2 linked regions of the Homo sapiens genome follow. The protein of the gene in region 2 interacts with the protein of the main gene of each other region in a pairwise test. Each region holds a gene or a part of one and is shown on either strand. Other genes may lie near its edges.

What was found. Proteins that work in one complex are often made in the same cells at the same time.
Region 1: the proteins of OBI1 (region 2) and RHOBTB3 interact in a two-hybrid assay, tested with the Homo sapiens proteins (one large-scale study listed by IntAct).

The regions. Positions count from the first base shown.
Region 1 is NC_000005.10:95,790,336-95,793,598, forward strand, and holds part of RHOBTB3 (rho-related BTB domain-containing protein 3), read left to right. Parts: intron 1-2,723; coding exon 2,724-2,839; 3' UTR 2,840-3,263. UniProt on the Homo sapiens protein: Rab9-regulated ATPase required for endosome to Golgi transport. Involved in transport vesicle docking at the Golgi complex, possibly by participating in release M6PRBP1/TIP47 from vesicles to permit their efficient docking and fusion at the Golgi.
Region 2 is NC_000013.11:78,642,156-78,645,655, reverse strand, and holds part of OBI1 (ORC ubiquitin ligase 1), read left to right. Parts: intron 1-658; coding exon 659-794; intron 795-2,103; exon of another isoform or gene 2,104-2,630; intron 2,631-3,442; coding exon 3,443-3,500. UniProt on the Homo sapiens protein: E3 ubiquitin ligase essential for DNA replication origin activation during S phase.

The sequences.
Region 1 (3,263 bases), on a different chromosome or scaffold from region 2:
GAATTGCACTTTGGTCCTGGAGCCAGTTTCATTATGTTACCTGAGGTCACTCTTATTTGTAAGAGAAGAATAAGATTATTTTCTACTTACTATCTTGTATAGATATATGGTATATATGGAGTACTATTACAACCTTGGGAGAAGGATGGTCTATAAATCCTTTTAGTTATGAATTTTCATTATATGGTATTACCCAATTACCTATAAAGTATGTTATGACACCTGGCATGGTGCAAAGCAGGACTTCCAGTGCGATGTGAGGTGGCAGGCTAAGGAGGAAACGATGTGTCGATGTTGCCTTCTGTTCCTTTGATGGGAATTAAAAGGGAATCATGAGAACTCTCATTCTGCAGTGCCTCTTCCTGTCCAGGGTCCTGCTATGAGGTGTCATCCTCTTGGGCAGAGGAAAAAAGCGCCTTTTGGATAAGGGAGAATTTAATTGTCTAAATCAATAGTTACTAACTGGCCATCTATGGTTTAGGTGTAGCCTGCCAACGTGTTTTATTGGGACCCCACAGTTAAAAATATATAGTACTGGTATTTAAAAATAACCATATTTTGGCTTCTTTTGAAAAATTGGAAGATCTGGCTACCCCAGGCCCATCATCCTAGTGGCAACATGTGGCTTGGCGCTGACGGCCCACCTAAAGGAGCATGCCCTCTCCAGAGGGTCGCAGTCACTTCTCTCCAGTGCTTTACACCTGGCCCACTGCACATGGTCACCTGAAGTTGGGAAAGTTTCTTGTCACGGTCACTCTACAGCTTCCTTATAGAACTGTCCATCTTCAGCTTGAAAAGTTCTCAAATTATTATTGGAATTCTACAACTTGTTTTCTGTTGACTGAGAATTTTTCATTTTTAGAGGTGTTTAGAAATCAAAAAGTGAGACTGGAAAAGATGTCATGTCAGTACAGGCACAGATACATCAGAACCCAGTTAAATAGGTCATTAAGTATTAGATTTTTATATACTGGACTCATGAACACAAACAGCGGTGCACAGGAATATGTTACCCTTGGCATTTATGGATTCATTATTCTCGCAGTTTAATTTAGCTCGATATTATGTGTTCTGTGTTATGGGGTTTTGTTTGTTTTGTTTTGCTGGCTGCCAGAGCTCATCTCTAATAACTTTTCTCTGGTTTTTAATATTTACTGAGGGAGTAGTCTCATGTCACCTTTGCTTCCTCTTGAAACTTAGAGCTGAGCAGCTAGTTTGTATGGTCCTGCAGGCTGAATCAAGACCCTGTTAATCTGACTTATAATAGATGAGGTTAAACAGTAGATGGAGAATCAAGTAATTCTCCTGCCTCATCCTCCTCAGTAGCTGGGATTATAGGCATGTGCCGCCACACCCAGCTAATTTTTCTTTTCTTTTCTTTTTTTTTTTTAGTAGAGACGGGGTTTTGCCATGTTGGCCAGGCTGGTGTCAAACTCCTGACCTCAAATAATCCGCCCGCCTCGGCCTCCCAAAGTGGTGGGATTACAGACATGAGCCATCGTGCCTGGCCTCCAGCAAGGTCTTTATGATCTATATCTTGAGTCGACCTCCTATCTCATTCTGTAACCTAGAATGCCTAACTGTCTGGGAATGCAGCCCAGTAGGTTTCAGCCTCATTGTCCCCAGCCCCTATTCAAGATGCAGTTGCTCTAGTTCAAATGCCTCTGACAGTTGTGCTTCACCAAACCTAGAGAATGAACAAAGCGAAGGACCTGGAGTTCAAGAATGGAGGGATCCAACTCCAAGGCAGGAAGCAGGTCCAGAAAGCAGGCAGGGCAGCAGCAACAGGGAAGAACAGCTTATCTGATGACTGGCTGGGTGGGAAGCACAACTGAGAGGACTTGAAGGACTTTGGAAGACTAAGTTAGCTACAAAGAAAACTAAGTATTATACCAAAAAAACTTATCCGGGCGTGGTGACAGGCGCCTGTAGTCCCAGCTACTCGGGAGGCTGAGGCAGGAGAATGGCGTGAACCCGGAAGGCAGAGCTTGCAGTGAGTCCAGATTGCGCCACTGCGCTCCAGCCTGGGCGACAGAGCAAGACTCCGTCTCAGAAAAAAAAAAAAAAGAAAAGAAAAGAAAAGAAAAGAAAAGAAAACTAAGTATTATAAATGGAAAAAAAAAATAAGTCCGTTATATCCAGGAAAAACAAAAGCTTTATTGGAAAAGAAAAGGAAGCCAGGCGTGGTGGCTCATGCCTGTAATCCTAGCACTTTGGGAGTCCAAGGCAGGCAGATCACGAGGTCAGGAGATCGAGACCATCCTGGCCAACAAGGTAAAACCCCGTCTCTACTAAAAATACAAAAAATTAGCTGGGCGTGGTGTCACACGCCTGTAGTCCCAACTACTCGGGAGGCTGAGGCAGGAGAATTGCTTGAACTGGGGAGGCAGAGGTTGCAGTGAGCTGAGATCACGCCACTGCACTCCAGCCTGGGCGACAGAATGAGACTCCATCTCAAAAAAAAAAAAAAAAGAAAAGGAAAATAATGAAATACTACTCGAAGTAGTGGACAAGATATATATAATTGTAAGTCACATAATAACTTAAATCCTGATACTAATTTAACCAAAATGGTAGTAAATTATTTGGGAAAACTTGTGGGAATGGTAGGAGATGTATCACAGAGCTGGATCTCATCTATTAAAGAGGAAATCAATAGCTGATATCTTAATTGATCCATAATAAAACATATTCGGTTAACAGTCTTTTTCTTAAAACTTCAGTGGAAGAACGCAGTTTTGTTGAAAAGCACAGATGGCCGTCGAATATGTACTTGAAGCAGCTTGCGGAATACAGGAAGTATATTCACTCCCGGAAATGTCGTTGCTTAGTAATGTAACCTGGAGCTTTTATACACTACATTTCTTTTTTATTATTATGAAGAATGGGATACCTCCAGGTTCCAGTAAAATTCTTCTGACCGAAACCAATGTGGGTGTTAGAAAAATTACCATATAGCTTAATATGTTTATTAGTTCTCTTTGGAAAAAAACTACCACTGTGGTCTTAAAAGGGAACAAAATATACCATAGGCTAAAACTAAGGCTTTCACTCTAGAATGCAAAGCTGTTTTGCAGCTGTTTTCCCTTAAAGATGTCCTGTTGCTTTAGTGATATTTAGACCCCTCTCAGTTAAGAAATGCTTAGATTAAAAAAAAAAAATTACGTAGGATTAATACAGAAATTTAATCATGTCTGATTAATTGCTCTATTAAAATAAGGGGCATTTAAAGACCCAGCATAACCATTTGTATAATGAGAAAT
Region 2 (3,500 bases):
ATAAATGTAAGGTATTATTATTTGTGCTTGTTTAAATGGAGCCTGGAGTCAAAGATTTGTGTATTTGGTGTATCTCAGTAATTCTGTCTGCATTGTTTGCTGTTTAGATTATAAACTACTTGAGAGTGAAGCTCATGCCTTTTGGGTTGTTTTAGCTTTCATTACTGTTTGGTTTTGGGGAATTTCTAGTAAAGTATCAATACAATATTTAATAGTTGCTGTTATTCTGTAACAGTGGAATGAATTGAGAAAAGGATTCGGGCATCAGATGGATGATTGTGCTAAATGATATTTTCAAAAACCTAATCCTGCTGTTCTATAATGCTAAAATAGAAGAGTTTGAGCAAAATTGTCCCAGCCTTAGTGGAACAAAAAGCATTTTCTTTTTGGCATGAATTCTGTGGTTTAGGTACAAAATAAAGCATTTTATATGTCAAAAGCTTCAGTCTCCATGATCCAGTATCTCATCTAGTATCTCTGTTAAACATGTGTAAAAAGAAAAGTGACCAACAGAAGCAGTGTTTTTAAAAGCGCTAGATATCCCTTCTTAAACTCCTACTCTGCTATAATCTAGAGAAGCAGTTTGCTGTAAACTAAACCATTTGATCTTCTAATTATGACCGTTGTCCTGTACTAAAAGTGATTTCTTTTTTCAAAGGTACGTCAGCCTGTCATATGCATCAACAACCATGTATTTTGTTCGATTTGTATTGATTTGTGGTTGAAGAATAATAGCCAGTGTCCAGCTTGCAGAGTCCCCATCACTCCTGAAAATCCTTGCAAAGAAATTATAGGTAAGGGCCTGTTTTATATATGCATAGGAATAGGTTTGAAACAATCTCCAAATAATTTATATTTCGAGGAAGACTGAAATAGGCTATTTTCAGTGATGCTATTTGGCCAACATAATACTGAGTGGTTGAGTAATTTGTGTAATGTATATGTGGAGCAACTGGGGCACAAGGCACTGAGAGGTGCTAAGAGGAATAACCCTGAGAGCCTCACGGAACTTACATTTTCATAGCAACTGAACCAAAAGAAAAGCAGCAAGTGCTAAGGGCCCCAAAAAAGCCCAGAGAGTTCAGGCAAGAAACTTCAGCTAAGAACACCGAGAAGGGCTTCATAAAGTAGGTGGCCTTTAAGCTGGACATTTAAATTTAAGGATGGATAACATTTCAACGGTGAAAATTAAGGAGGGCATTTCCTGCAGGGAGAATAGCATGAACTAAAAAGTTTAGATACAGGAAAACCCAGAGCATGTTTTTAGAAATGATCAGTAGTCTACTTTGGGTCCGACTACTGAGATAAGACAAAAGGTAAATTGAGACTTTAGTGCAGAGAACCTTGAATGACAGCTAAATCAGGGACTTGCTCTAGGACTAAGAAGAAGGGTGAATTGGGCATGATGGTTTTGAGCAAGGGAGTGGTATGATCCAAAATGTGCTTTACAAATATTACTTGTGGTAATACATAGGTTGGACTATAGGAGTAGACAGGATGTGAGTAGGTCTGGTAGGAGGCTTTTGCCTAGGTGATAGAAAATGTAAGTTTGGATTAAGGGTGAAAACAAATTCTATGTCACATTAATATTGGTGGGGTGGGGGAGGAGTAAAGCTTGAACTAGAGGATCCTTGAAAAGGAGAACTTCTAAAGAGCCTTTTTAGAGTTTGGTTTTTATTCTACTCATATAAGTTATTTATTTTAGGTTGCAAAAATTAAAATGATTTCTACTTGTTTTTGCTATAGGAAAAATTGAAAGTGAATCTACAATTAGCCAAGTATAGAAAACATTTTTCAGAAAACTTAAGAAGTCATTGTAATAGTCCCAAGTTAGGGAAAATGGACTTAAATAAGATTTTTTTTTTTTGAGACAGAGTTTCGCTCTTGTTACCCAGGCTGGAGTGCAGTGGCGCGTTCTCGGCTCACCGCAACCTCTGCCTCCTGGGTTCAAGCGATTCTCCTCCCTCAGCCTCCTAAGTAGCTGGGATTATATGCATGCATCACCACGCCCGGCTAATTTTGTATTTTTATTAGAGACGGGGTTTCTCCATGTTGGTCAGGCTGGTCTCGAACTCCCGACCTCAGGTGATCTGCCCGCCTTGGCCTCCCAAAGTGCTGGGAATTACAGGCGTGAGCCACCGTGCCCAGCCAAGATTTTTACAAAGGAAATAGAAAGGAATATATATGCTACAGAGCAAAAGAAGAACTAGTAGGACTTAGGAAATAAGAGATCTGAAGGCGCAATCAGAGTTGGCTCTTGGTACCTGGGTGAAGTCTGGTAGAGGACTGGTTCTCTGCTGTGTTGCATGCTACGGGGTTAACCTCTATCTGTTTTTTTTTACCTGCTGAATTTCACCAAGGAGTCAAGTCTTTTCTTGCAGAATATGAGCTTTGATGATTTGAATATTTTCCCCCAGCTTTTCTTCTCATCCCATATCCTACCTTTATTCATTCATACCTAAGTGATATTTCATAAATTCTCTCAAGGAAAATAGTTCATCCATTTTTGCATTTGGATAGAACATCCTGAAAAAGAACACCTGTAAAATACCTTTGCTATTATTATAATGCTAAAAAATACAAAGAAGGTAACCAGAGCATCAGTGAAGAGCTCTCAGGAAGAATTCATTGTGAGTGCATTTGTAACAAGTCATGACATAGAGTTAATGCCATGACTTACAGTCCATTGTAACTAGCCTGTTAGAATCCGTGAAAAGACACATTAATCTATATACATAGGTATATAGCAGTAATACTTTTTTTTTTTTTGAGACGGAGTCTCGCTTTGTCGCCCAGGCTGGAGTGCAGTGGCGCAATCTCGGCTCACTGCAAGCTCCGCCTCCCGGGTTCATGCCATTCTCCTGCCTTAGCCTCCTGAGTAGCTGGGACTACAGGCGCCAGCCACCACGCCCGGCTAATTTTGTTTGTTTGCATTTTTAGTAGAGACAGGGTTTCACTGTAGCCAGGATGGTCTCTATCTCCTGGCCTCGTGATCCGCCCGCCTCGGCCTCCCAAAGTGCTGGGATTACAGGCGTGAGCCACTGCACCCAGCCAGTAATACATTTTTATATAATCTCTTGGTTAAATGTAAATGTAATAATTGGTTTTATTATTTAAATATAGTCTAGTTTTCAGAATTTGAAGTAGTCCAAATGTGATAATTACAGCCCTTTCCTCCACTGAGTTTGCTGTGATAAGATATGTAGATATGTAAATACAATATGATGTGTTACTGAAGGTATTTCTTATGGTGTTATTTGATATATTTTTTTTTCCTCAAGATTAGGGTAGAGAAAAGGCCTAGATGTAAGCCCCAAGTGTGTATGTAAGGGGAAGGGTAGATGTGAAGCTGGGAAGCTATATAAAACAATATGAAAAAGGATCATTTTCATTCTTCCCGAATCAGAATGAAAAATTAGGATTTTTTTTTTTTTCCCTACAGGAGGAACAAGTGAAAGTGAACCTATGCTAAGCCATACGGTCAGGAAGCATCTTCGGAA